Homo sapiens: one gene and its partner. The protein of the gene in region 2 purifies or fractionates together with the protein of the main gene of each other region. This does not show direct contact. Each region holds a gene or a part of one and is shown on either strand. Other genes may lie near its edges.

What was found. The genes of interacting proteins can lie anywhere in the genome.
Region 1: the proteins of SCN2A (region 2) and ATP1A3 purify together in Homo sapiens (affinity purification with mass spectrometry; one large-scale study listed by BioGRID and IntAct). This does not show direct contact.

Annotation. Positions count from the first base shown.
Region 1 is NC_000019.10:41,977,231-41,980,730, reverse strand, and holds part of ATP1A3 (sodium/potassium-transporting ATPase subunit alpha-3), read left to right. Parts: intron 1-1,932; coding exon 1,933-2,125; intron 2,126-2,404; coding exon 2,405-2,580; intron 2,581-2,658; coding exon 2,659-2,795; intron 2,796-3,500. UniProt on the Homo sapiens protein: This is the catalytic component of the active enzyme, which catalyzes the hydrolysis of ATP coupled with the exchange of sodium and potassium ions across the plasma membrane.
Region 2 is NC_000002.12:165,385,914-165,389,413, reverse strand, and holds part of SCN2A (sodium channel protein type 2 subunit alpha), read right to left. Parts: intron 2,669-3,500; coding exon 2,398-2,668; intron 786-2,397; coding exon 1-785. UniProt on the Homo sapiens protein: Mediates the voltage-dependent sodium ion permeability of excitable membranes.

The DNA of each region.
Region 1 (3,500 bases), on a different chromosome or scaffold from region 2:
ACCGTGTTAGCCAGGATGGTCTCGATCTCCTGACCTCGTGATCTGCCCGCCTCAGCCTCCCAAAGTGCTGGGATTACAGGCATGAGCCACCGCGCCCGGCCTCAGTAAACTTTTTTTTGAGATGGAGTCTTGCTCTGTCGCCCAGGCTAAAAGGCAGTGGTGTGATCTTGGCTCACTGCAACCTCTGTCTCTGGGTTCAAGTGATTCTCATATCTCAGCCTCCCGAGTAGCTGGAATTAGAGGCGTGCACCACCACACCCAGCTAGTTTTTGTATTTTTAGTATTGATGGGGTTTCATCATGTTGGCCAGGCTGGTCTTGAACTCCTGACCTCAAGTGATCCACCCACCTCGGCCTCCCAAAGTGCTGGGATTACAGGCATAAGCCATCATGCCCGGCCCATTCAGTATACATTTTTTGACCAGCCACCACATGTTAGGCCCTGTTTTGGGTGCTGGGTGTACACACAGTAGTGAGTGACATGGTGAAGTCACCCCTCTCTGAGACTTACGCTCTGGTTCTAGAAGACAGACAATAACAAAGGCATGAGGAGGTAATCGTAGTGGTTGTGGTGCTGAGGGAGGGAACCCTGCAGGTGTCTGGGGGAAGAGCGCTCCGGTAGCAGGCACAGCCTGTGCAAAGGCCCAGAGGCGGGAGTGTGCTGACGCATCTGAACACCAGCCAGCCAGCCAGTGCAGAGGGGCTGGGAGCCAGGGAGCGTGGTGGGGGTGGTGGGTGCTGGCCAGATCCTGTCAGGCCCCACGGGCATGGAGAGGACTTGGCTGTGACTCTGAGGAGCACACAAGCCTCCAGGGGGCTCTCAGCCAAAGAGAGACAGGAGTTGACTCAGAGCTTTTAAAATAACTTTATTAAGATATAATTAACATACCATAGCTCGTCCCTCTAAGTGTATAATTTAATAGTTTTAGTATATTCGCAGATATAGGCAGCCATCCACATAGTCAATTTTAGAGCATTTTCATCACCTCCAAAAAGAAACCCCACATCTCTCAGCTGTCACCCGCCCCCTCCTCCCCGACACTCCCAGCCCTAAGCAACCACTAACCTACTTTCTGTCCGTATGGTTTTGCCTATTCTGGACATTTCATAAAAATGGAAGCATACAGCTGGGTGTGGTGGCTCACGCCTGTAATCCCAGCACTTTGGGAGACCGAGGCAGGAGGATCGCTTGAACTCAGGAGATGGAGACCAGCGTGGGCAACATAGGGAGAGCATGTCTCTATAAAAAATTAGCCAGGCATGGTGGTGTGGACCTGTGGTCCCAGCTACGTGGGAGACCGAAGCGGGAGGATCGCATGAGCCTGGGAGATCAAGGCTGCAGTGAGCTGTGATCTCGCCACTGTTCTCCAGCCTGGGTGACAGAGTGAGACCCTGTCTTAAAAAAAAAAAACAGGGTGGGAGGAGGGGAGCACAGACGTGGTGGCTTATGCCTGTTATCCCAGCACTTTGAGAGGCCGATGAGGGCAGATCACTTGAGGCCAGGAGTTCAAGACCAGCCTGGCCAACATGGCAAAATCCCGTCTCTACTAAAAATACAAAAGTTAGCTGGGTGTGGTGGTGGTGCCTGTAATCCCAAGCTACTCCGGAGGCTGAGGCAGGAGAATTGCTTGAACCCAGGAGGTGGAGGTTGCAGTGAGCTGAGATCGTGCCACTGCACTCCAGCCTGGGCAACAGAGCGAGACTCTGTCTCAAAAAAAAAAGAAAAAAGAAAAAAAGAAAAAGAAAAAGAAATATATATCCATGACATAGACAGAGCGGACAGGAATGAGCAGAGGTCTCTGTGAGAGAGTGTGGGGGAGCCCTGGTGTGGGCCTATCCTGGCACCCGTGGCTCTGGACAGGGGACAGGATGGGGCAGGGAGCTTCCTGGTGTCTGCGTGGCTCAGGCACGCCACCCTCTGATCGGTCCCCAGCTCTCCATCCATGAGACCGAGGACCCCAACGACAACCGATACCTGCTGGTGATGAAGGGTGCCCCCGAGCGCATCCTGGACCGCTGCTCCACCATCCTGCTACAGGGCAAGGAGCAGCCTCTGGACGAGGAAATGAAGGAGGCCTTCCAGAATGCCTACCTTGAGCTCGGTGGCCTGGGCGAGCGCGTGCTTGGTGCGAGGCTGCCGGGCGGGCTCTGGGGTCCCTGGAGGGCAAGGAGGGTTGTGATGCTGCCCAAAGCCTGTCTCAGCCCAGGGCCTCCCAGAATATACTGTAAATGAATGAATGAATGAATGAATGGATGGATGAGAGGGGAAGGTATCCTAGGAAATGAATGCTGACTGGCCGTCTTGCTGATGGGGAGATGGAATGCGGGCGATGCAGACATCTAGGGGCATGGGGCGGAGGTTCCGAGGCTGGGACCCTCACACCCCAACCCTTCCCTGCCACTAGGTTTCTGCCATTATTACCTGCCCGAGGAGCAGTTCCCCAAGGGCTTTGCCTTCGACTGTGATGACGTGAACTTCACCACGGACAACCTCTGCTTTGTGGGCCTCATGTCCATGATCGACCCACCCCGGGCAGCCGTCCCTGACGCGGTGGGCAAGTGTCGCAGCGCAGGCATCAAGGTGTGGCTTGGGGTGGCTGGGGGAGGCAAAGCCAGGCGTGGGGCGGGAGAGGCCATCCCTAAAAAACAATGCCTGCAGGTCATCATGGTCACCGGCGATCACCCCATCACGGCCAAGGCCATTGCCAAGGGTGTGGGCATCATCTCTGAGGGCAACGAGACTGTGGAGGACATCGCCGCCCGGCTCAACATTCCCGTCAGCCAGGTTAACCCCCGGTGAGCCACCCATCCCAGCCAGGGCCCTGGACATCCCTCTAGGGTGTTGACACAGGGGGACCGCTTCCCCCCAACCTCCCTCTGCACTGCCTGTCCCATTCTTTCTGGGACTCCTCCATGGACCAGGCCCTGGGTCTGGCCCTCCCTCCGGTGTGGGGACATTGCAGCCACAGAGGTAGCCAGGCATAGGTTTGCATCCCAGCCTTTATTTTATTTTATTTATTTATTTATGTTTTTGAGATGGAGTCTTGCTCTGTCGCCCAGGCTGGAGTGCAGTGGGGCAACCTCAGCTCACTGCAGCCTCCGCCTCCCGGGTTCAAGCAATTATCTGCCTCAGCCTCTTGAGTAGCTGGGATTACAGGGGCCCTCCACCATGCCCCGCTAATTTTTTTTTTTTTTTTTTGTATTTTTAGTAGAGACGGGGGTTTCACTATGTTGGCCAGGCTGGTCTCGAACTCCTGACCTCAGGTGGTCCACCTGCCTTGGCCTCCCAAAGTGCTGGGATTACAGGCGTGAGCCACTGCGCCCGGCCTGCATTCCAGCTTATACCGCTCACAAGCTGTGTGACATTGGGCAAGTCCTTTAGCATCCATGAACTTCAGTTTGCCCATCTCTAAAATGGGCTACTAATAATTCCTATCTCAGAGGATTCAGTAGAATCCAGTACTTCTGTGTCTGTCTCTCTTTTTTCCTGTCTGTCTGTCA
Region 2 (3,500 bases):
ACTCTCACCCAAAACACGCTTTGTAAAAGCAAATAAGATGTCAAGACAGTGGATCCGGTCACCACTCACCATGGGCAGATCCATGGCAATGAGCTGGACTTTGTTGGGTTTTGCTATGAGAAGAGGAGGATCCAGGGCATCTGCAAAATCAGAAAGTTTGGCAAACTCTATAAACTGGGTCGCATCGGGATCAAACTTCTCCCAAACCTCATAGAACATCTCAAAGTCATCCTCACTCAGAGGCTCTGCACTTTCTTCAGTAGCAACACTGAAGTTCTCCAGGATGACCGCGATGTACATGTTCACCACAACCAGGAAGGATATGATGATGTAACTGACAAAAAAGAAAATCCCAACAGATGGGTTCCCACAGTCTCCTTTAACTGAGCTTCCAGGGTGATCTTTGTCAGGGTCACAGTCTGGAGGTCCACTATTAAGAATAGGTGCTAGCAATCCATCCCAGCCAGCAGAGGTTGTAATTTGGAACAGGCAGATCATGCTGTTGCCAAAGGTCTCAAAGTTGAACATGTCATCGATCCCAACTTCCCTCTTAACATAGGCAAAATTGGACATCCCAAAGATGGCGTAGATGAACATGACCAGGAAAAGAAGGAGGCCGATGTTAAACAACGCAGGAAGGGACATCATCAAAGCAAAGAGCAGCGTGCGGATCCCCTTTGCTCCTTTGATCAGACGTAGGATTCGGCCAATCCTGGCAAGACGGATCACTCGGAACAGGGTAGGGGACACAAAATACTTTTCTATCAGTTCAGCCAGAAACATTCCTGTAGAAAATCAACAAATAACAAAAATATTGTTATACTTAATAGTAGCAAATGAAAGTTTACATAAGTACATTAGTTTTACAAAATGTGAACAGGACAGTTAGGTACATGTATATATGCAAATAATCTGCAATGTTTGTTGAGCAAAATGAAACTGGTATGTTTGGTGTTATAACATTTACATCTTTATATTAAATGAAGATAATAAGGGCCATTTTTCCTAGTTCAAGGAAAGCATCTATCAAAAAAATGACTCAACCCTGGAAGGTCCAAAGACATCATGAAGCATACAGTGGCCAAGTACAGAAATTAATTTATATGTCCAAAATACTAGTTCTAGTATTTGCATAAGAACTAAAGGTGTATGATTTTGGGTCAGGAATATGAGAGTTCTTTACTTTCTGAGATTCTATGTTATTTGGGAGTAGGCAGCGTGATGTACAGAAGAAAACATAGGCTTTGGAGACAGATGTACTTGGGACTGAATCCTGGCACTTGCTTTTATGCATGAGTAAATGGTGATAATATCAACTTTTTCTTGTGGTCAAACTGAACATTTACTAAGTCTTTTCTTCATGCTAGGCACAGTGCTAAGTGCATATATATACATAATCTGATTTAATCCTCACAATAACATTTTACAGAAAAATTCCTTGCAAAACCAGAGATTGGAGAGCTGAGGTAACTTCTCTTAGGTCACTGAGAAGGTAAGTAGTGTAAATAGGGAAGCTCCAGGTCAGATCTCAAATCTTACCTCTTAATGCTACCTCATAGCACTTATGTGAGAATCAAATGCAGTGGAACATTGTTACAATGTTCTATTCGACTAAAGAAAGTAGTTTAAAGAGTGCTATATAATTTTCCCCTCCATGTGAATGTTCTGTTTCCCCAAATAGGTAGAACCTTCTCTTAAATCTTCTTATATTTACTTCCAGTACCTCATTTAATATCTTATACATAAACACTGTATATATATATTTTTTCCAATAAATCTTTTGCATTCCTAGGACTTAATGTATGTATGTATCCTAACATTAATGTATCATTGATGATAACAAATCTGTTTTGGATTTTCAAACAAACTATCTGCTTCCAAAAAGAGATATTGCAAACCACAGAAAACTGTCTGCACCCAAAGATAACATGAAACTTATATATGTGTTATTATATATATAACTGCACATATACACTATTCCAATTATTTAAGAGGTCATATTTATGAATTATGTGACTACTTCAAATGATTTATGTATATATGTGTGTGGATTGATTGTTTATTCAAAGCAGTAACTGTCAATACCACAGGAGTATGACCAGGTACAAGACTATTCTACCAAAGTTGCAGTTATTGTCTTCTGAGATGAGAACAGATGAAAATATTAAATGAGAATAAATGAAAGCTGAAAATATAAATTCCTTGTATTCCACTCATCATTTCAAGCACAGCATGCAATTAGAGAAATGGCAAACTAAAACTAAAACAATGGACTATTAGATTTTTATTTGGGAGTTTGGGATGAATGAGAAAGATTAGTGAAAAACACCTCTAAAGTTTTAAAACACATATTTTTACCACTATATTCCTTAACTGAATAAAAGCACCTCTTCTTACCTACAATGGAGAGAATGACCACCACAAAATCAAAAATATTCCATCCAATAGTGAAATAGTAGTAACGAAGAGAGATCAGTTTCAGCACACATTCTCCAGTGAACAGAACAATAAACACCAGATTAATCCAGTACAGAATGTTTGTCATTTCTTGACTCTGGTCATCGGTTTCCACCATCATGGTGACCATGTTAAGGCAGATGAGGATCATGATGCTGATATCAAAGACTTGTTTGGTTACAAAATCAAAGACCATTCCTTGGAATTTGTTCTGGAACAAATAATATGTAAAAGTTCCATTAGAAACCTTAAAAAAAATCGAATTCAATTCTTCTGATTTTAAGAAAGCAACAAAAAATGTAGCTTTTATAAAAACACATCTTTAATCCTCACAACATTTTACAAAAAAAAAAATTCCTTGCAAAACCAGTGATTGGAGAGCTGAGGTAACTTGCCTTAGGTCACAAAGCAGGTAAGTAGTGTAAATAGGGAAGCTCCATGTCAGATCTCAAATCTTATCTCTCTCTCTTTTTTTTAATTTTTTTTATTTTTTGAGATGGAGTCTCGCTCTGTTGCACAGGTTGGAGTGCAGTGGCACGATCTTGGCTCACTGCAACCTCTGCCTCCCGGGTTCAAGCGATACTCCTGCCTCAGCCTCCTGAGTAGCTGGGATTACAGGTACATGCCACCATGCCCGACTACTTTTTGTAATTTTAGTAGAGACGGGATTTCACCGTATTGGTCAGGCTGGTCTCAAACTCCTGACCTAATGATCTGCCCACCTCGACCTCCCAAAGTGCTGGAATTACAGGCATGAGCCACCATGCCCAGCCTCAAATCTTATCTCTTAATGCTACCTCATAGCATTTATGTGAGGGTCAAATGCAATGGAACATTATTACAATGTTCTATTCTATTAAAGAAAGTAGTGTATTTTATTTTCGTTTTATACTTGGAAGAAAATTTTGTATATTGTATATTCAACTGTATTCAAATGTATTTGTTTTATTTATACTCACATTGATACCAGGTTTTATAAACTCACGTATTATGTTCTCAGTGCACAGAACACCATCATGTTATGACGGACAGTTAGTAAATAT